6 linked regions of the Homo sapiens genome follow. The protein of the gene in region 5 purifies or fractionates together with the protein of the main gene of each other region. This does not show direct contact. Each region holds a gene or a part of one and is shown on either strand. Other genes may lie near its edges.

Region 1 (4,178 bases), on a different chromosome or scaffold from region 5:
TTCTTTGTTGTTGTTTTTCTCCTTCCTTCTCCTATTTTGTCTTCCTAGGACTTGACACTTCACAACCTGCTAAAAAATGAACTTCCCAGGGCCGGGCACGGTGGCTCACGCCTGTAATCCCAGCACTTTGGGAGGCCAAGGCCGGCGGATCACGAGGTCAGGAGATGGAGACCATCCTGGCTAACACGGTGAAACCCCATCTCTACTAAAAATACAAAAAATTAGCTGGGCGAGGTGGCGGGCGCCTGTAGTCCCAGCTACTCGGGAGGCTGAGGCGGGAGAATGGCGTGAACCCGGGAGGCGGAGCTTGCAGTGAGCCGAGATCGCTCCACTGCACTCCAGACTGGGAGAGAGAGCGAGACTCCGTCTCAAAAAAAAAAAAAAAAAAAAAAAAAAAAAAAAAAAAATGAGCTTTCCTAGTAACTCAGGACCTGCCCGTCTAGAAATAAACTATCCTAGCCATGAGAGATAAGACAAAACCTGGGACCAGAGACTCATTTTCTTCTAAAATCTTGGAGAGCTTTCTCCAAGATTTTAAAGAGAAAATGGGGGGAAATGTGAAAGGAAAAGATCTTGAGCCCCCAGATCACTACAAGCTAAAGGGAGGAGTCTAGCTGGGAACTGCTCAGGGCAAACCTGCCCCCCATTGTATTCAAAGTCTCCCCTCTGCTCACTGAGATAAATGCGTATCTGACTGCCTCCTTTGGAGAGGCTCATCAGAAACTCAAAAGAATGCAACCATTTGTCTCTTACCTGCCTGTGACCTGGAAGTCCCCTCCCCACTTGGAGTCTTCCTGCCTTTGCTTCGAGCCGTCCTGCCTCTCCAGACCGAACCAATGTTCGTCCTGCATATGCGGACTGATGTCTCATGTCTCCCTACAATGTATAAAGCCAGACTGTGCCCTGACCACCTTGGGCACACGTCATCAGGACCTCCTGAGGCTGGGTCATGGGTGCACGTCCTCACCCTTGGCAAAGTAAGCTTTCTAAATTAACCGAGACCTGTCTCAGATTTTGGGGGTTCACACCGGCATGGTGACCCCCATGGGCTCTGTACCACATCTTCTCTGATCATGAGTCCCCTCCTCCCCAAAGATACCTGGCCACACCCCAGGGAGGCAACACCCCCAAGTGCCATAGCTCAGAGTTTTGTGCCTGAATCATCACCAGCAAAACAAAAGATCAGCAAGCATCCAAGTGAGCACTTTGCCCGGCGGCCTGGATTTCCCGTGGCCGGTGGTCAAGACTAGGCCTCACTAGCGCAGGCAAAGTCTCTCCTCTGTTCTGGGCAGCTCCTTGAATCACCCAGGTGGGTGCCAGTGGCACCACACACTACCGTCCCCTTTGTCCCCAGGGCTGTTGATTTGTTCCACCCACAGGCCAAGCAAGCTGACACAAGCGAGGTGAGCCTCCCACACTTGCCCAACCCCAGGAAAATAAATGCGAGGCTCAGGAAGGCTGCTGTCCAGGGCTGTGGGGAAGTGACTCGGGGCTTCCCTCCTGCAGGCCGTGCTCAATGAAGCCTGGGACACCCGGAGCCAAAGCTCCCTGGCCTTAGTGTGGGACGTGCAGCCTGCATGGGCTGCTGCAGTGAGCCCATCCTGCCAGGCAGTGAGACCAGCAGCTGAGGAGCCTGTGCCCTGGGCTCCCCGAGGGCCTTCGGCTGCAATGCCTCCCATGTCTCACCCACAGAGTCTCAGCTGGGGTCAGGCACACCCGCCCTGGCCGACCTCGGGGGGCCCCAGGGCAGCCAGGGGGGCCCTAGCTTGGCCACCAGCTAATCAAGTGAGCCTGATTCCCCAGCCCCTGGGCCTCTTCTTCACAATATGGTCACAATGTCCACAGGAGGGGGCATCTAGGATGGTCCAGGCCAGGCAGCCGGCCCCACACCTCTCAGCCCTGTGACGGGGTGTCCTCAGCCAGTGTCCTGGCAGCTGGTCTTAAGTCACCCCTTAAAGGAAGGTAACTGAATTCATGGCGGCACACGCCCCGGGGAGGCAGGGACCTGCCAGCGCAGGGACGGCTTCAAACTGCCCTGGAATCACCCCAAACAGGATGGCGAGCAGGAGAAGGAAAACGCAAGGCATCCTTAGCCACACCCACCACCCCTCCAAACCTAACTGGGAAGAAATCCACCTCCCCTCTGTTTACAGAAGGGAGACAGCACAGCAGAGCCCAGCCTCCCCGTCACCACCCAGAGCCCCGGGAGCATCCTGAAGCGCACGCATGACCAACGCTCCAGCAAGCGCCTGGCACTCCCACCAACACGGCCCAGCCATGGGCCTGAGCCGCAGACCGAGGCTGGGAGGTCCCAAGCCCAGCAGGTCTCACCCTCCCCAGCCGTCACGCGGACACTCGAGCGTCTCCACGCCACAGTGTTGGGGGGCAGCTTTCTCACTGGGCCCCACATCCCAGAACCCCCAAACACCCAGAAGCAGCACCAGGCCTGGGCAGGAGGGGCCCCCTACTTCCGAAACGAAGCCAAGACAGGTGAATTCAGGGAAGCCTGAGTAGGAACAGCCTCCAAATCCAAGTCACTTCCTTCGAAAGACAAACAAAACCCACTCCTGTCCGTCTCTCAGAATAGCCACAGATGAAGCGCTTTGTCCACCTGGGGGGTCCAACTGCCCCCCTTACCTCTGCAAGCCGCCCAGCATGGACATCATCTTGGCCTCTGGCCTCCAGCGAGGGGACAGTCGAGGCTTGAGCTCCCCCGAGGTCCCACCGCCTCGGCCCCTGCCGGCTCTGGGCTCCCCAGGGTGCAGGCACAGGCAGGGTGCGGCTGTGGGGCAGGTGAACTGGAATCCCCAGAAGCTCACCTGCCTCCTGGGACGGGAGCCACGCCCTCTCCCCGCACCTCCATCGGAGGGCTTGGTTTTAACTGTTCTGTTCTCGGGAAGAACTGGCTGAGGGAGTCTGGGGAGCCCTCGATGGGCCCCTGTGTTCCCCAGGCCCTGGGAGGACCTGCCTGGGGCCTACCCCTGCTCCCCTGCCCCACCCTCAGTGTCCATCCCCCCGGGGGGCTTGGAGGGAGCTGTCCCCACAAGGGACGGGCTTGGTGGGCTCCAACAGCACAGCGACGGCTTCTGGACTCAGAACTCAGGACCTGACGCAGACGAGAGGGCAGAGGGCCCTGTGGCCACTGCAAGGATGAGCGAGGAAAGCTCAGCCCAATTCCCAGCTTCCTCCCCCTCCTCGTCCTCCTCTTCTTCCTCCCCCTCCTCCTCCTCCTGAGCCTGCTTCACACCAAAAGAAAATCTGACTTTTTAAAATCTTGGGCTGGACAATAAGTTTGAAACAGGACATGGAGGTGGAAAATAAATATAAATATTTGTTTAGATTTTACTGCAAGAAAGTTCATTTCTCTTTTCAGGAAATAGATATTAATTCCGAGACAAGCAGCCAGGGAAATGCTGCAACATTGTGACCAGGCGCTACAGTGAATCCACAGGAAAACGCAAATGCTCCTCAGAGCTACGGGCCACGCGCCATGAGTCACCACCACCCTCGCCACATCCCACCAGCGCTGGTGCCCACCATGCCCTCCGACGCCAAGCTCTCCACACGGCTGGTCACCTTCCCACAACCCCTCCCTGTCGGTGCCAGCTGAGCCTGGATTCCGGGACTGGCCCCAGCCCAAGGCAGCCTCCCTGCCCTAGCCAGTGCCTGGCTCGGATGGGTGCAGGCCCCATAGCCATGGAGGCAGAAACAAGGCTGGGCTGAGGGGCTCAGAGGAGGGGCCGAGCACACATGGACCTCCCTGGCATCAGAGACCCTGGGCTGGGCGGCTGCTGGCGAAAGGCCCAGAGACCCCCAGCCTCCCTTCCCCATTTACCTCCACCTGCAGCCCAGGGGCCTGGCATCTCCGCCCCCGCCTAGGCATCACCCTCCCAGCTGCTCTGTAGACCTCCAGAGCCCGAGTCTGTGGGAGGGGCCAGCAGAGCAGCTCCCGGTGCTAACGGCAGGTGGGAGGGATGCCGGGGCCTTGCTGGCACGGCTGGGCAGCTCTCCACCGGCGTGCCCTGCATCCTCCGCATTCCACTATCCAGAGACATCCGTGTGGGTGTTCACTCCACCATTAAGGAGCCTCCCTGCTGCTTCCTCCACCCACCCTGCCCAGGGCACCACAGGCTCAGCCTAGGAACAAAGAAGATGGCGCCTCATGGGTCCTTACCCCA
Region 2 (3,500 bases), on a different chromosome or scaffold from region 5:
TATAATTTTATTTAGAATCAGTACCATATGAAGATTTGATGGGGAAAGAATGGAAGAAAGACCTCTCCGGCCCACTGTTGCTACCATTTAATACCTATTCTCTTATACCATAAATGGGGTAAAGAAGGGGCCCCAGTAAATTATTTTATATAGTTACATCTGAAGACAAAACAGATTATAGACTCGCAGTATATCATGATTTTCCATCTTGTCAAAAATCTGAAACCCTTGCACCCTAATTAGTGACCGTTGAGACAACCACTCTGAAAAAAACTAAAACCATAAAGTAATTTTATTGCTAGCAAGATCTTCATACGTTAATCAAGAGTATAAAGCTGAGCACAATGGCTCATATCTATAATCCCAGCATTCAGGAGGCCAAGGTGAGAGGGTCATTTGAGCCCAGGAGTTTGAGACCAACCTGAACAAAACAGGAAGACCCCGTCTATAGAAAACATAAAAGTAAATTAGCTGCGCGTGGTGGCACGTGCCTGTGGTCCCAGCTACTTGGGAGGCTGAGGTGGGGGGATCACTTGAGCCCAGGAGGTCAAGGCTGCAGTGAGCAGTGATTGTGTCACTGCATTCTACCCTGGGCACCAATGTGAGACCCTGTCTCAAAAAAAAAAAAAAAAATACACACACACACACACACAAATCATAGGCTTGGATTCTACTGATGGGTGGAAAAAAGAAATGTCTCAGTGGGACCTCCTAACTGCTCTCTCTGCTTCCACTCCCAGTCCCCTCAATTGTGTTCTCCTCATGAAAGCCAGAATGGTCTTTTAGAATACAAAGCAGCTCAATCCACTTCCCTGACTGAAATGCTTAAATAGCCTGCAAGGCCTTTATGATCTGGCCCTTTCTGCCTCTCCAAACTCAAATCCTTCCTACCACTTTTCCCCCTTTTACACTTCACTCCAATCACACTGACTTGCTTACTGATGCTTGAACAAAAGTCAAGCTTCATCCCACTTCTGGGCCTTTGCACATGTGCTCCCTCCAACTGAAAAGCTCTTCCACCAGACCTCTGCGTGTCACTTCACTCAGGCTTCTGCTTAAATGTCTTTTGGAAAGTCTCCCTGGCTCCCTATGTACAATTGTCTCTCAACCCCGGATTCCCTTGTCCCCAGCATGCTCTCTGACCCTTTGTTCTGCTGTAATTTTGTTCACAGCACCTGGTGCATTTTTATCTGTTTATTTAGCTTACTGCCCCCCAACTATTAGAATCTTTTCTTTTCAACTGTGGTTTTATATTCAGTGAAATACAGAGATTTCAAATGTCCAATTCAATGCATTTTGATAACTATATATACATATTTTTAACCATAACCCCAATTAAAACAGAAAATGTTCATCACCCCAGAAAAGTGATTCACAAAGCACATTTATTTTTTGGACACAGGGTCTCATATCATTGCCCAGGCTGCAGTGCAGTGGCACAATCATGGCTCACTGCAGCCTCAACCTCCCAGGCTCAAGCGATCCTCCCACTACCTTAGGCTCCAGAGTAGCTGAGACTACAGGTGCATGCCACCACACCCATCTAATTTTTAAATTTTTTGTAGAGACAAGATCTCCCTACGTTGTCCAGGCTGGTCTTGAACTGGGCTCAAGCAATCTTTCTGCCCTGGCCTCCCAAAGTGTTGGGATTACAGGTGTGAGCCACCACACCTGGCCAGCAAACACTTTTTTTTTTTTTTTTGAGACAGAGTCTCGCTCTTGTTGCCCAGGCTGGAGTACACTGATGAGATCTCAGCTCACTGCAATCTCCACCTCCCAGGTTCAAGCGGTTCTCCTGCCTCAGCCTCCCAAGCAGCTGGGATTACAGGTGCCCACCACCATGCCCAGCTAATTTTTTGTATTTTTAATAGAGATGGGGTTTCACCATGTTGGCCAGGCTCGTCTTGGACTCCTGACTTCATGTGATCTGCCCTCCTCGGCCTCCCAAAAGTGTTGGGATTACAGGTGTGAGCCACCGCGCCTGGCCCCAGCCAGCACACTTTTAATCACTCAGCAACACTGCCTTGTTGTCTCTAAAAAGTTGGTAATAATATCTTACGTGCCTTCCTAACTTGAAAGGCAGCATATTTGCTGTTTTAAGTTACAAGAAAATTCTAACTTAAACTACCAGGTGTTATTCCAAAGCTCCCCAAAAACTTCAATGGTCAGACCTCAACAACTAAGCCATAACAAAACCAAAGGCATCTGAGGCGGAGTCTTACTCTGTTGCCCAGGCTGGAGTGCAGTGGTGTAATCTTGGCTCACTATAACCTCTGCCTCCTGGGTTCAAGTGATTCTCCTGCCTCAGCCTCCCGAATAGCTGGGATTACAGGTATGTTCACCATGCCCAGCTAATTTTTGTATTTTTAGTAGAGACGCGGTTTCACTATGTTGGCCAGGCTGGTCTCGAACTCCTGACCTCAGGTGATCCACCCGCCTCAGCCTCCCAAAGTGCTGGGATGAGCCAGCATGCCCGGCCCTGTATTTATTTCTAACTATACATTTAGAAAATATTAACTTAAATCATTATAGTCAACCATTTAATAGCCAAGGACTCTAGAAAACATCTTGTTCATGTGAATCCCTCAGCAACTCTTTCATTACCTGAGTTGTATTTAGTGCTGTGTTCACATTTTTAATAGCTTCTTCAAAATTCTCTTCATCTTCTGGAGCCCCATTTTCATTTTTTAGAATTCCTATTGTAATGGGAAATTGTTAGCAAACAGCCCTTTTCTTTTCACTCTTCTGTTCCCCCATTATAAAAATAACCTTGTCAGATCCTGCAGAATATTAAATCTTAAGAAGAAATACGGCTTATCATTAGTCCTTAAAACTATACAAGGCGTGGCTTCTTAACTTCTCCAGAAGGAAAATAAAAGCTCATGATGCTATCATCTGACAAAGGTGTTAACAGAAATCCAATAAGTACCTGCCTCTAGCAATTTGCTTTTCAAGCTTTATACAGTATTTAATCATATCCCATATTACCTTGTCTAATCAAATCTCTGAAGTCCTCTTTTTCTTTATACGTTTTAGGTATTCGTCCATTTGTCTAAATTGGTTAAAAATTTTAAAAATCTAGTTATTAAAATTCAAAATACAGAAATTGAAAGTCTAAAGTGTCCCCCATTCTCTACATAAGATTTCATCAACAAATATATTTCTCTGTGAAATCAGAGGCTCACTTGATAGAAAACAGACACTGTGACCATTTATCTACATTCATTCCCCCTGCCAGTTTCATAATGACATTTATTGAATTTCATTTTAATTAAAATTATCAGGATCAAAAGAGGAACTGCTAGATTTAAATTTAAAAGCATCCATTTGCCCTACCATACAACTCCATAAGGAAAAAAAATTAATCTCCCATTCCCCATCAAGGAAATCCTTTGTAAGAAACTGAAAATACAGTTGCATATGAAATTTTTTTTAAAAAAGGACATACTTCACTATACCACTGTGCTAAATATTTAGCTATGATCACAATCCATGGAGTA
Region 3 (3,500 bases), on a different chromosome or scaffold from region 5:
CCGGGGATCCCACCGGGTGAATGATCAGAGTTTGTTTGTTTGTTTGTTTGTTTTTTGAGGAGTCTTGCTCTGTTGCCAGGCTGGAGTGCAGTGGTGCGATCTTGGCTCACTGCAACCTACGCCTCCCGAGTTCAAGCAATTCTCCTGCCTCAGCCTCCCAAGTAGCTGGGACTACAGGCGCCCACCACCATGTCCAGCTAATTTTTGTATTTTTAGTAGAGATGGGGTTTCACCATGTTGGCCAGGATGGTGTCGATCTCTTGACCTTGTGATCCACCTGCCTCAGCCTCCCTAAGTGCTGGGATGACAGGCGTGAGCCGCCATGCCCGGCCAGAGTTTCTAGGGAATAGAAGAGAGGGCAGATACAGACCCCAGGGACATTAGTGAAGCCATTCAGCAGTTGTGGCCAGTGGCCAATGTGAGTGCCCAAGAGCCAAGAACTGGTCTTCCAGGCTAGAAGGACAAACGACAGGCTGGCTCCCTTGGTCTTGGGGTGGCTGTCTGGCAGGCAACAGCTGCTTTGCTCAGTTGGCTCAAACATGTGACAGCTTCCTACTTCAGTCGGTCTTCCAGCCTTCTATAAAGCACACTTGGCAGTCCCCTGGGTACAGAGAGGAATGTTTTTCCCAGGTTGCTTTCTCCTTTATTGACAGGCATGAGACACAGGCAGGCCCAGGCACAGGAAGCCCCATGGAACCTGCCAGGTTGCAGCTGGGTCCAATCCCGCCGGCCATGCTGGGTGACTGCAGGCCCAGCCCACCCACCACGTGTGGACCCAGACACCTCCATGACACCAAGGGCAAAGCACCAGTTCCAGGGTGGCCTCCCCTTGGCTCTTGGGGTGGGGACACCCAGCAGCTGGCACTCAGTTGGGGGGTTATGTTTGCAGAATCACATCACCATATAATCAAAGCACTGTCAGGCAGAACTTGACCCACGGCCTCAGCCCCAGGGTGCTCAATGCAGACTGTGCAGGTGACCCTCTGAAACTACCCAAGGACTCAGCCAAAGTGTGGTCTGGCCCCTTGCTCCTGGAGCCCTTCAGCACATCCAGGGACCACCATCAAGACAGGCACTGCAGGGCGCAGAGCCAACGTGCTGACCAACTCAGAAGCAGAAGCTTAGGAACCAGAGCCCCAAGCCACCCCGATGCTGGCGGGGCCAACTCCAGGCGCCGTGCCTGCACAGCACCACACAACAACCTTTGCTAAGTGGGTCCCTTCCTTGGACCCAGACACTCTCAGTGACTCTGCTCAGGAGGCAGCGCCACCATGCTCTGGAGAAGAGGAGGCCGCCAGAGCCCGGGTGGTTTTAGTGGGTCTTTCCCTGAGGCAGAAACTCCAAGGCCAGGGACAATGTGACCGAAGGGGAGACAACTCTATGGACACTGTCCAGGGATCAAAGATGGTCAGCGTGCACCCTTAGGGTACGTTTAGCGAGCTGGGCTCCATCTCTGCCGCTCCCAGGTGCGGGTCCCGCGTCGCTGTCCAGGCCCCTCATTGCTGACACTCCCCTGGCTTCACTGGGCAGAGTCCACCGGCCCCCCAGCCCTGGGTGTGGCTGGCCCCTCCCTACCTCCCATGTAGCTCCCAGGCCTTTACGAAGCAAATCTCCATCCTCCATCTCCACTCTTGGAAAATGCAGCTGCCCTGCACACCCACAGCCCCGCCCCCGCCCCACCACGGAGGCCTATGGACGCCACCACGACACCACATGGCAGTTACTCGGTATCTGGGCCCTGGACGCGCAAGACCCCGGAGGCCACAAACGGTACAGGAACACAGCCAGGAGTCACGCTGCACACCCCCACCCGTACCTGAGGCAGACTGGGATTGAAATTTTATTTTTAAAAGGTAAAGCTGTTTTATTAAACGTCTTTTAAGGACTGGGAGTATGACATAACAAACTTGAGCAACATGTGTAAACACGTGTGAAATGCGGTTTGATTTCAGTAGTTTATTTTGGAGACAAAGCAGTGCAAGAGGCCAGCCACGCTTTCCTGTTCCCCAGGGCTCAGGGTCAGAACTAGGAAAGGTGACGTACAGACATTAATCGGGGTTCAAAACTCAAGTCGTGTAAACGTGGTTAGTTGTTGGGTCCTCAGTTTCCAAAAAAGCCGGGCAGTTCTGATGGCCTCTGCCCCTCGCCCAAGCCCTGTGCCTCCCTCCTCAAAGTGGGCATCCTGCAGCCCAGCTGAGCCAGGCCGAAGGACCTCCATGCACTGGCTCGGGGGCCTCTCTCGGGACACTCAGCACTTTCTCTAGCGTCCTCCATCTCACTGGGCAGAGGACAGCCCGGAAGCCTTTTTCACTTTTTCAAAGTAAACTGCTATCTTAAGACACAAAAACATACTTGTGGGGGCTGATGCCTCTCACCCAGCACCCCACATCTTCCAGGACTGCAGAGGCTTCTCCCCAACCCTTTTCTCTGCAGAGGGGGCTGCCTGGATCAGGGGTCAGACGGCAGAGCCAGTGCTTTGCTGCCAAGGTGATGGGGTGAGTCTGAGGTGTGCAGAAGCGATGGGGGGCGGGTGGCTCCCTGGCACCTGCTGGCTCAGTGCTTGGGGCTTGCAATGAGAGGTGGACCAGGCCTGCTGGGTGAGGAGGGACCCAGCAGGTGTGAAAAGGAGTGAACCCACTGGGAAGAGGGCCCCGATCTCCATGGTGTCATGCCGAGGCTCCCGCGCCTATCCTCACCTAGGTGACTTTATGGAAAGGCAGGCTGCATCCCAGGGGTTAGGGCACAAAGCCAGCCCTGTGGTGCTCTCTGATCTCAAATGTCCACTAGAGACAAGGGGGTGGAGGCCCAAAGACCTGGAATGATTTGCCCAAATCACAGCACAAATCCTCAGCACAGGCGCCATCGGCTCGGGCCTCCAGCCAGGCAGCCTCCTTCCCGGGCTCCAGGGAGCAGCAGTGCTGGCTTAGGGGAAGGAGACCGCTGTGCAGGGCTAAATGGGACGTGTGTTGGGGGGCCCAGAGGACGCCCAGCTTCCTTTCCTTCCCTTTAGTGAGGGAGCACAGCCCAGACCCCAGCGCGGAACTCCCCTGAGGGGTCTGTGGCCTCCTCTGGCTGTGGGGAGGGAGGGGTTAGCTGCACACCAGGCAGGGTGGGGGCTAACAAAGCCTTGGTGGAGACCAGTAGGAGGAAAAACAAGGAAGGGGCAGGTCAGGGAGTGGGGAGTCAGGCAGAAGGGAAGCCACTCTCACATGCACCGATCAGCCTCCCACAGCCCGACATGGGCAGGCTTCCCCCAAGGGTCCCGGTCCACAGTGGCCATGGAGACCAACAGACAGGGATGTGCACAGACACTGGCATGGCAGCCATACGCACACCCCTCACCTCCCATCCAGACCTAGTGTTGCAAACACAAGCGTGTGTAAACTCAGTTAGGAGGTCTGCACAGTAGAGAGCAGGCGGACGGCCCCACTCCCCAACGGTGGACCACCTGGTACTCTCTTCCATCCCCCACTACCCCTCATTTAGATCATGACATCAGA
Region 4 (3,500 bases), on a different chromosome or scaffold from region 5:
CGCAATAATTAGGAGGCGGGCGGATCACGAGATCAGGAGATCAAGACCATCCTGGCCAACATGGTGAAACCCTGTCTCTACTAAAAATACAAAAATTATAGCTGGGCGTGGTGGCAGACGCTTGTAATCCCAGCTACTTGGGAGGCTGAGGCAGGAGAGTTGCTTGAACCTGGGAGGCAGAGGTTGCAGTGAGCTGAGATCATGCCACTGCACTCTAGCCTGGTGACAGAGCGAGACTCCATCTCAAAAACAAACAAACAACAACAACAACAACAAAAAACAACAAAACCCAATTACTTTGGTAGGAGAATAAAAGAAGACAGACTGAAGATAGGTGGGTTGGGTAGCTGGTACAGTAATCAAGATCTAAAGTGAAAAAGGGCTGTATTTGGGAAGTGGAATATTCTCCTCCTTGATAGCAGTTTTTACAACCTACTTTAATTTTGCTTATTTATCTGTCCTTTACTAGACTTTAAGATCTTTTAATATAGGAGGCTATTTTGATGACCTACGTCTTAGTTATTAAGAAGTTTTAGGCTGGGTTTGGGAGCTTATGCCTGTAATCCCCGCACTTTGGGAGGCCAAGGCAGGTGTATTGCTTGGGCTCAGGAGTTTGAGACCATCTTGGGCAACATGGCGAGATCCCATCTCTACCAAAAATAGAAAAAAATAGCTGGCATGCTGGTGTGTGCCTGTAGTCGCAGCTACTCAGGAGGCTGAGGTGGGAGTATCACTTGAGTGCAGGGAGTGGAGGTTGCAGTGAGCAAAGACCACACCACGACACTCCAGACTGGGTGACAGAGCAATACCTGTCTCAAAAAAAGGGAAAGAAGTTTTAATAATTACGGTTAAATGAATGAATGTTTTTATTTTATATGTGGCTGAGTTTTAGAAACTTTGTATTACACTAAGGGTTGTCCTAAGAATCTTGTTAGTTCAAGAAAATAAAATCTTCATGACTTTACATAACTGGATTCCATGAAGACCCATTCCTTCTTTTTCCTTTTACTATTAATAATATAGTAACTGTTTACATATATATATATTGACTTTGTGCCAGCCAGTGAGCACTTTATATATGTTATCCCATTTAGTTGTCAGTAGTATGATTTGCTGCATAGACTATTTGTTTACATTTTAGTAATGAGGAAACTTAATGAGACTGATTTGTCCAAGGTTACAGAGCTGATAAGGTAGGCAAGACCTAATTTTCTCTGGCTGCAAAAGCTGTGCTCTTTTCCACTGTATTAAACTGCTTTATATCTTTGAAATCAATCTCCCCCTCCCCTTCCCCTTCTTTTTAAGCTTGTAGTTTTATAAATGGCTGTGGTTCTCCAAGTTTTTTGGGAGGTCGTTTGGAATAGTAATTTTTGACTTGTAGGTTGTACCCTTAACTAAATTCTTTAGGTTGGCACGTTTATGGCCTTCTTCAGAGGTCAGACAAGAAGTATGATGAAGCCATTAAGTGTTACAGAAATGCACTAAAATGGGATAAAGACAATCTTCAAATCTTAAGGGACCTTTCCTTACTACAGATTCAAATGCGAGATCTTGAGGGTTACAGGGTAAGTAAAATAGAGACTTTTTTTTTTAATTCTAAGGGGAAAATATGTACAACTTTGAGTACTTTCAGATACATAAATTTTTTATTTCATTTTGAAAATAATTTAATTGAATTTTTTTTTCCTCCTACCACAGTGGTTATGTTTATGATTGGAATAATCAGATCTTTAAAAATAAATTATTTTATGGTGAGGCAGATTTGGCCTACTGTGTAGGGTTGACTTAATTTGATAAAAATTAACATCAGGCCAGGTGCGGTGGCTCACGCCTGTAGTCCCAGCACTTTGGGAGGCCCAGGTGGGTGAATCATGAGGTCAGGAGATCGAGACCATCCTGCCTAACACAGTGAAACCCCATCTCTACTAAAAATACAAAAAATTAGCTAGGCGTGGTGGCAGGTGCCTGTAGTCTAGCTACTCAGGAGGCTGAGGCAGGAGAATGGCCTGAACCCGGGAGGTGGAGCTTGCAGTGAGCCAAGATCACGCCACTGCACTCCGGCCTGGGTAACAGAGCGAAACTCTGTCTCAAAAAAAAAAAAAAAAAAAAAAAAAAGAAAATCAGTACTCCTCAAATAAACAATGCCTTTGTCTAGTATTGACATGTAACTCTAACATTTACTTCCCACATTTTTCTGGAAAGCAAAACAAAAAAAAAATTTTTTTTTTCTTGGAGACATTAGAGTCTCACTCTGTTGCCCAGGCTGGAGTGCAGTGGCATGATCTTGGCTCACTGCAGCTTCCACCTCCTGGGTTCAAGCAGTTCTCATGCCTCAGCCTCCTGAGTAGCTGGGGCTACAGACATGTGCCACCATGCCCAGCTCATTTTTTATATTCTAATAGAGATGAGGTTTCACCATGTTGCTCAGGCTGGTCTTGAACTCCTGAGCTCAGGCAGTCCACCCCACCTTATTCTCCCAAAGTGCTAGGATTACGGGCATGAGCTGCTGCACCTGGCAAAAACAAATGTTTTGTTTCTTCTTTCTACCTCCACTGACTCTAATATATTTTTGTAGCTTCGATTTTAACCCTTAAATTAGTGTTAGATCTATTTAGTTCCTCTTTCATATTCTTTCCTCTTTATGTATGTTAACTCTGTAGTTGGACACTTAATTTTTAAAAACATTTTTGAATATTTTTCCTTTGTGCTGTTCTTTCCATCCTGCCTCTTTTCTGGGACTGAGCAGATCAAGAAATAAAGAAGGGTCTTAAGTTTGGTCTTAAGTTTTAAAAACTTAAATCTGGTCTTAAGTTTTAAAAAAATTCTAAGATTAGCTTGGAGGCTTCATTATGTTCTTAACAAATATTTCTTTGCCTCCATAAAGCTACACAATATGGATGTTTGAAGTATTTTCTATTATTGTTCCCATCATTGTGTTGTAAAATGCTTGGGGTTGTGGGATAAATTAATGTGTGTTTTTTTTTTTTTTTTTTGAGACGGCGTCTTGCTCTGTTGCCAGGCTGCAACCTCTGCCTCCCGGGTTCAAGTGATTCTCCCGCCTCAGCCTCCTGAGTAGCTGGGACCACAGGCGTGCACCACCATGCCCAGTTAATTTTTGTATTTTTGATAGAGACGGGGTTTCACCATGTTGGCCAGGATGGTCTCGATCTCTTGACCTCGTGATCCACCCGCCTTAGCCTCCCAAAGTGCTGGGATTACAGGCGTGAGCCACTGCGCCTGGCCTAATATGGAGATCTTTTAAAGGAGCACTTGCTGTTACTAAAAGCCTAAGAAAAAGTGTTTATTTTTTTCCTTTTAAAGGAAACGAGGTATCAGTTACTTCAGCTTCGACCTGCGCAGAGAGCATCATGGATTGGTTATGCTATTGCTTACCATTTATTAGAAGATTATGAAATGGCAGCAAAGATTTTAGAAGAATTTAGGAAAACACAACAGGTAATAACTAGAAGCCATTTTACTAAGTCTGATCCTAAGTATAA
Region 5 (3,500 bases):
ATATAGATTTGATAACTAGCAAATTGTTTTTAAATGACAGTTCTGCTGCAAGGTAGCTTCCGTAGACTACTCCGGAAGGCACTGCTCACATACATGAAAATATACATGGTACTCCCTGGAGTTGTACAACCTGGGGGTGCTATACCCTCGTGTTGTTAAAATAGCAGGACCCCAGGCCAAGAGTATAAAATGATTCCCATAACTTTTTTTTTTTTAAGAGAGAAAAGGTCTCATTCTATCACCTAGACTGGAGTGCAGTGGCATGACTGCTCACTGCAGCCTCAAACTCCTGGACTCAAGTGATCCTCCCACCTCAGGCCCCTGAAGAACTGGGATTACAGGTGTGTACCACAACATCCAGCCAATTTTTTAAAAAACTTTTCATAGAGATGAGGTCTTACTATGTTGCCCAGGCTGGTCTCAAACTCCTGGCCTCAAGTGATTCTCTCGCCTTGGCCTCTCAAAGTGCGGGGATTACAGAAGTGAAACATCATGTATGGCTGGTGTGATTTTCTAATCACAAAATAGAAATGCCAGGGCCATGCAGGTGAACTTCTACCCATGGGGAGAAAATAGAAAGCAAACTGGACAAGATTAGGGCTGCTTTATGTGCTCATCTTTGCCTTCAAAGGTTCATTTTAATGCAATATTAACAAGACTAAATTTACTACGAAAAATGTAAGTGGAAGGCATTGTGGTAGATACAGCGTCTTATGCACAGGCTTCTTGGCTTCAATGAAGAGGATGATAATCCAGCTGGGAAAATATGAAAATTGATCATTAAAAATCCAAAATTATAAACTGCAGTGTAAGTGACAATTATAATTACCAAAATTAATTTATCATTAAATTATAGTTGAAAAATGTGTAACTACAGGCACCATCATCATCTCATGGTAACTGTACGTGAGAATGGTGACCGGGCGCTGTACGATGCAGTGGCTCTGCTGTACTGATGGTGCCCAACACTTTCTAGAAAGAGGGGCTTTCCTGCTCATGTCACAGCTCTTTAGGTATGTTGAGGCACTTTTCACCCACCAGGAGTGATCAGGAGCTAGGCCATGAGTAAGGTGACTTGACTTTGAAAGGCCAGGAACGGGCTGCTCCCACAGGTCAGGTCATTTCCAACAAAAACGACTGCAATCGTCTTCCCTCAGGATGGAGAGTCAGAGAGAGGCAAGAGGAAGGCTCGGTAGGTGGCCTAATTCCTTGGCACTTGTTCCAATCTGTGCCTCTGTAGTTAACACGGAAAACATGGGACTGCCTAGTCTACTCCTCAGGGGAGAGTGTCCAGAGAAAGGCAGGAATGGTTTGAAACCAAAGAGGGCCCTGGGGCAAGGATAATTGAGAGAGGAGAAGGAGGGTGATATGTGGCAGCCAGGCCAGGACAGAGGCTGGAAGGGGAGATGTTGGCCAGCACATGGGACCAGGACTCAGCTCCCCACCTTCTCTCGATGGAGAATGTTTAAAATTTCCCTAAAGTCTCTGTACTTCCCTCTGTAACCTCTAGAGCTTTGAATGGGGAAATGTGGAAGCTGACAAGTTGAAGATACATCAGGAAAGTCTTTAAACATCCCCAATAAATAACTCCTGGATTCCCAAGGGCAATGAGGAGCTGCTGCAGTTTTCCTGGGAGGTGAGTGTGAAGAAAGGAATGGCCTGTGGACAGCTGGAGCATGTGCTACCCAGGAGACCACGCCTAAGGTGGCTGTGCAGCTTCTAAGAACATCGGTAAATACCCTTGTTCCACCCAGACCGAATTCACACCTGCACAACGCTTTTCTCAGGGAATTACTTTATCCTTTGAAGGAGGCTTCCAGAGAATAAGTCAAAGACACTATTTTTCTAATTGTCCTTTTTTGTTTGTTAGGGTTCTTCCATCCCCTACTTCAAGCTGAATACAAAAGCTCAATGAACAACAGGCACAAAAGATGCAGCAGATGGGAAGGAAACAGTGAATCTATTCTTTACAAGCTAAATGTTTTCAAATCTGGAGAATCTGGGCCAAGCACTGCAAAGGGTACTGCAGACCACACTGTTTTCTCATGGGAAATGCTGGCAGATGAGGAAAAGGGCTGATGAAGAAAGGTAAACGTCTGACAAATGGCATGGCTTTAGAGAATGGAGGCCACTCAGCTGTGTCCTCCACATTCAGGTGAAAAGTTTTTAATGGAAATCTGCTGTATCTTAAGCAGTGCACTAGAAGGTAAAATATCAAGAAGTGATTTGAAAACATACATTACGTTTCGTGCAAACCTTTAGTGGTGCCTACTGAGTACCAGCCACTGCTATTAGGTTGTTGCAAAAGTCATTGTGGTTTTTGCCCTTAAAAAGCAATGGCAGGCCGGGCACGGTGGCTCACGCCTGTAATCCCAGCATTTTGGGAGGCCGAGGCGGGTGGATCACCTGAGGTCAAGAGTTTGAGGCCAGCCTGGCCAGCATGGTGAAACCCTCGTGGTGGGTGCCTGTAATCCCAGTTACTCAGGAGGCTGAGGCAGGAGAATTGTTTGAACCCAAGAGGTAGAAGTTGTGGTCAGCCAAGATCGCACCACTGGACTCTAGCCTGGGTGACAGAGAGGGATTCCATTTACCCCCACCCCCCACAAAATAAAAAAGCAATGGCAAAAACCACAATTACTTTTGCCCCAAACTAATAGATGCTAGGAATGCAAAGATGGGTAACCCACACTCCCTCCCACAGGGAGCTCCATCCTCGAGGGAGTCAGACACACGATGACTGTCTAACCCAGCAAGAAGAAGGCTAGAACACCACTCAGGAAGTCCCAGAAGAAGGAGAAAGTTACTTGGCCAGTGGGACAAACATTTGACCTGGATTCTAAGTAAGAGACAGATGTTTCCACAAAGGGTTCTGGAGAAAACATAGGAGCCAGATGAATAAAGAGCTGACACTGCACCCAGGCCTTGGCCAGATGGGACCAGTGTGCACATGAAAGCCTCCCTGCCTGATTCTGACGCGCAGCCAGGCTGGGGAACCACTAGGAAAAGTCCAGTGCCTTGTCTGACCTGGGGACACAGGGAATAGGAAGGACTTCATGGGGTGCACATCTTTCCAGGCTGGGCCAGTTTCCTTTCATCCCAGAACAAAAAAGTCTCTTCTGAGGAGGGAGATGCAGAGGATATAACTTACTGAACTTCTAGAGATGGCAGTTCCATTAGGCATGACGGATCCTCAGCAAAGAAAATAGTATCGAATCCTCGGGTGAAAAACCTTTAAAAATGGCTTCCAAACCTCTTGCCCCTTCCCTCTGGCATTGGGTGAATACAAAAGGGAATGGAAAAGACTGGACGCTGGAAGCAGGCCCAGCCAACTGTTGCCAGCTTCTCTCACCTGCTCCCACCAGGGGGAAGAAAGGAAGGTACAATGTGGTTCTTTCCCATCCCACCACCAAAGAAGGATTTAAGGATTGACTGGCAAAGGATGTTTCTCTCTGGGAAGGTAAAACCTATTGCTGTTCACATCTTCCAGTGAACTATTTCAG
Region 6 (3,500 bases), about 65 Mb from region 5:
AGAAAGTATGAAAGAAGGGTTTCATGGCGAACAGACAAAAAAAAAAAAGCCACCTGAAAGAAAGCAATTAAGTTACAAGACACCTTTCACTAATGGTGATTATGGCAGATTTAGGAAAGCAGCTGGGTCTTTTCATTTTCCAGCAGACCAAGATACCTTACGTGAAGCTGAAGGTATCGACGTAGGGGGCTCTAGGGCAGTGGGACCTTCATCCGGAACTAGCAAGGGTCGGGGAGAGGCCTCTTGGGCTATGTGGGATGAACTTGCAACAGAATCTCTGTTGGAAGAACATGAGGTATCAACTAGGGCTTTGGGACTCATTTCACTGATTGTATTTTCGAGCTGTTTAATGGTCTGCTCCAGGCTATCCAATGTTCTGTAGGTGTTTTTTCTAATTTCATCAGTTCTTGAAATCGGAGATGTACTCTCGATGCTGGGCTGCTCTTGCCTCCTCACTGTGTTTTCAGGGGTGTCTTCAGGTTGAGACCTAGCGATTTCGAAGCGCTTGGCTTCTTTGTGCTGTTTCAGGGTGCCATCCTCTTCCTCTTCTTCATAGACTACCACTTGCAAAGTCTTCTTCCCTGTTTTAGTTCCGGTGCGAATGGCTTGAGTGAGAGCGGCGAGTTGCTTCTTAGGGAATTTGAATTTAAACTTTTTCTTGGGGCTTTCAAACTGGTCATCGGTCGCGTCCTCACCCTTGCATTCCGAATTTGGAGAATCCACGTGGCTGAACTTGTTCAGCTCCGTTCTGTTCATTTCCTGTCCTCCTGGGTTTCTGGTCTCTGTGGCCAGGGAGTGTGGCTGTGACTTTGTTTCCACCTGTTGTCCGGTTCTAAGATTGCCTGGGGCCACCTTCTTATGAGACATCTGGGAAGTGTTATTATTCTGGACTACAGAATCCCCATTTTCCTCCTCTTCCTCCTCCTCTATCTTTTCCTCCATCATCATTCTCTCTAATTCCTCATCACATTCCTCAAAGATAGTTGAAAGTCTCTTATAGGCAGACCGGATGTCCATGGGCTCATCGAAAATGATGATCACTGGTTTCTTGTCCAGGCACACGACTGGATCCTCATTGTCAGTCCCTTCTTGTCGGGGGGTCATCTCTTTTCTGGCATCGATATTAACCGTCTGTATGTCTTCTCCCTTTTGGCTAACAATATCATGCACCTCCCCACTGGAAAGAACCTGGACAGTGGTTTCGGTAATCATGAAGGCAATATTGTCAGTGGCTGCATTTTCTTCAGTGGGAGAACTTGAACTTGATTCTCCATCCTCATTAGGGTTCACGTTAGCATGCCTTGCCTCCTTGGGTCTTAGAACAACTTGGCCAAAATCTGTCGTGATAACCTCTTGATCTTCTGTTTTAAAATCATGCACGCTTGATTCTGTTAGTCTAGTGTGAGAGGAAACGTGACACTTATCCGTATTTTGCTTTTCCATCTCCTTTGTCTTTCCGTAATTCAGCGTCTGGTTCTCGGTGTCAGGTATAGAGTATTGCAGGCCTGAGATTTTAGACCCTTTGTTTATTTCATCTTCTAATGGACTAATGCCAGAGAAACCGAAACTGGCCTTAGGCACAGTTTCCTGGGAATAGTTTCTACTGTCTCTGAGTAAACTCATATTGGATATGGAATTTTCCTTCATTATGATCTCAGTTTTATATTCTGATGTTCTTGATGCATCAGAAATACTATTCTCCATTCCTCTTTCCCACTTAGGAGGGTCACTAGGTCTTACAGCCCCTGTGGTAACCTGAGAGGGAGAACGGAGGAGGGAAACCACACACGTTAATCAGCAATGGATCTGCAGAGGCAGGTACTTAATGTGCATGGTATTGGTCGGAACCCAGATCTGGTGAACTCACCTTTTGGAATTCCATTTGGGGGCCATTTTCATATTCAACATCAGATTTCCGTACATCTTCATGGAAAAATTCCAAATTCTGGTAGAATAGTGTAGGACATGTTACTCCACAAAACCACATCCCCCCAAAAAAGTGGACTATAACTAAATCGTTCCTTTAATTACATTTCTAAGACATGCGGGCCACGCATATTTCTTACACACCAATCCAAAGCCTACAGCTGTTTACCTTGGATTGCTTTGTTCTCCAACTGCCAAAAATGCCCTGTGTTTGCACAAGATGAAAATCTCAATTAGCAAAAGATTTCAAGAATTTAAAATTTTGTAGGGGAGTGGTGAAGAAAATAAAGGGACAGAGTCATTACTAACATGTCCTCTTTTCAACATCAGATTGTGAGCTTAGCAGAATTTAAAACCTGAAGAATTGTGAAAAGCACAATGTATGGGCTGACAGAAAGTTTTGATCCTAATCAAGATCTGCCACTAAACTGTGTTACTTTAGATAAGTCACTTTACTTCTTTGGCCTCAGTTTTCTTGCCTATAAACTTAGGAACCAGCCCAGGGGAATTTTAGTTCCCCTTACAGCTCATTATTTCAGTCCTCCCTCTGCTTCTGTTATGGAGATTATCCTATAAAGACATCTGCCTTGGTTGGGTTTGGCATTTGGGGACGAAAAAACATTATTTTCCCCTGATCAAATGACAGATTGAAATGCAGTTTGTACTGCAGGTGTCGAAGTGCCAAAATAACCTTCACACTCCTCATAGCCACGATGACCAAATCCAAATTCAGAGTGATCATGCTGTTACAATATAACCTCAATTCATATCCATCATGCTGTTACAATAGAACCTTGGTTCATATCCATCATGCTGTTACAATAGAACCTAAACATTCACAAAGCAGATATTTGAGGTTACATTGGTGACGGTGACGTCACGACTCAGCTTTCATTCTCTATATTTTCCAGTGTAGACTGAAGATACATGTCTTAGGGTCTCACCAAGATTCAGGAGTGAAGGATCCAGTGGTGAGGACCCAGGTATTCAAGGCGCTTCACCTGGAGGCCTGGCCTTTCCCAAGGTGTATCAGTAGCCTCAGGCCCTGACATAACACTAACACTAGTGATGCCTTGTCGGTTCCAAGGCACTGCTGCCCTTTCTTCATGCTGAGGTGATTGATTATAGCAGGATGGAGCACAATTCCCATGAAGGCTGCTTGGTTAAAGCAATGACAACACAAAGCACAAACACCCGGGCCCAGCCAAAGTCAACCCAGAGCAACCCCTATGACCTTACTTAAGAATGGAAAGACTGTTCATACACGCCTGAGGAATGACACACAAACAACGCAGTCAGAATTAATCACACGCAAATACTGTGCAAAGTACAAGGTACACGAGCCACCAAATACCTCCTGTTTTACTTCTGCTTGCTCCCCAGGAAGCCCCCAAACAAGTGCCATGATTCGGCTGCTGCAGCGGAGCCACATGGCTTCTTTTGTGGGATTTTAAATTTAAAATATGAAACAATGAATACGTCAAGTAAAAGGTTTTAAAGAAGAAAAATAATTGAGCTTCCTGTAATCCCAGCTACTCGGGAGGCTGAGGCAGGAGGATTGCTTGAGTCTAGGA

What was found.
Region 1: the proteins of LIPA (region 5) and GAL3ST2 purify together in Homo sapiens (affinity purification with mass spectrometry; one large-scale study listed by BioGRID and IntAct). This does not show direct contact.
Region 2: the proteins of LIPA (region 5) and NAE1 fractionate together in Homo sapiens (co-fractionation; one large-scale study listed by BioGRID). This does not show direct contact.
Region 3: the proteins of LIPA (region 5) and ITPK1 fractionate together in Homo sapiens (co-fractionation; one large-scale study listed by BioGRID). This does not show direct contact.
Region 4: the proteins of LIPA (region 5) and NAA15 fractionate together in Homo sapiens (co-fractionation; one large-scale study listed by BioGRID). This does not show direct contact.
Region 6: the proteins of LIPA (region 5) and KIAA1217 fractionate together in Homo sapiens (co-fractionation; one large-scale study listed by BioGRID). This does not show direct contact.

The regions. Positions count from the first base shown.
Region 1 is NC_000002.12:241,775,444-241,779,621, reverse strand, and holds the start of GAL3ST2 (galactose-3-O-sulfotransferase 2), read right to left. Parts: upstream 2,801-4,178; 5' UTR 2,667-2,800; coding exon 2,638-2,666; intron 1-2,637. UniProt on the Homo sapiens protein: Transfers a sulfate group to the hydroxyl group at C3 of non-reducing beta-galactosyl residues. Acts both on type 1 (Gal-beta-1,3-GlcNAc) and type 2 (Gal-beta-1,4-GlcNAc) chains with similar efficiency.
Region 2 is NC_000016.10:66,813,977-66,817,476, forward strand, and holds part of NAE1 (NEDD8-activating enzyme E1 regulatory subunit), read right to left. Parts: coding exon 3,449-3,500; intron 3,053-3,448; coding exon 2,989-3,052; intron 2,697-2,988; coding exon 2,605-2,696; intron 1-2,604. UniProt on the Homo sapiens protein: Regulatory subunit of the dimeric UBA3-NAE1 E1 enzyme. E1 activates NEDD8 by first adenylating its C-terminal glycine residue with ATP, thereafter linking this residue to the side chain of the catalytic cysteine, yielding a NEDD8-UBA3 thioester and free AMP.
Region 3 is NC_000014.9:92,937,926-92,941,425, forward strand, and holds part of ITPK1 (inositol-tetrakisphosphate 1-kinase), read right to left. Parts: 3' UTR 602-3,500; coding exon of another isoform or gene 558-601; 3' UTR 1-557. UniProt on the Homo sapiens protein: Kinase that can phosphorylate various inositol polyphosphate such as Ins(3,4,5,6)P4 or Ins(1,3,4)P3. Phosphorylates Ins(3,4,5,6)P4 at position 1 to form Ins(1,3,4,5,6)P5.
Region 4 is NC_000004.12:139,339,505-139,343,004, forward strand, and holds part of NAA15 (N-alpha-acetyltransferase 15, NatA auxiliary subunit), read left to right. Parts: intron 1-1,407; coding exon 1,408-1,565; intron 1,566-3,321; coding exon 3,322-3,456; intron 3,457-3,500. UniProt on the Homo sapiens protein: Auxillary subunit of N-terminal acetyltransferase complexes which display alpha (N-terminal) acetyltransferase (NAT) activity. The NAT activity may be important for vascular, hematopoietic and neuronal growth and development.
Region 5 is NC_000010.11:89,231,276-89,234,775, forward strand, and holds part of LIPA (lysosomal acid lipase/cholesteryl ester hydrolase isoform 1 precursor), read right to left. Parts: intron 1-3,500. UniProt on the Homo sapiens protein: Catalyzes the deacylation of cholesteryl ester core lipids of endocytosed low density lipoproteins to generate free fatty acids and cholesterol.
Region 6 is NC_000010.11:24,541,138-24,544,637, reverse strand, and holds part of KIAA1217 (sickle tail protein homolog), read right to left. Parts: intron 1,946-3,500; coding exon 1,868-1,945; intron 1,756-1,867; coding exon 157-1,755; intron 1-156. UniProt on the Homo sapiens protein: Required for normal development of intervertebral disks.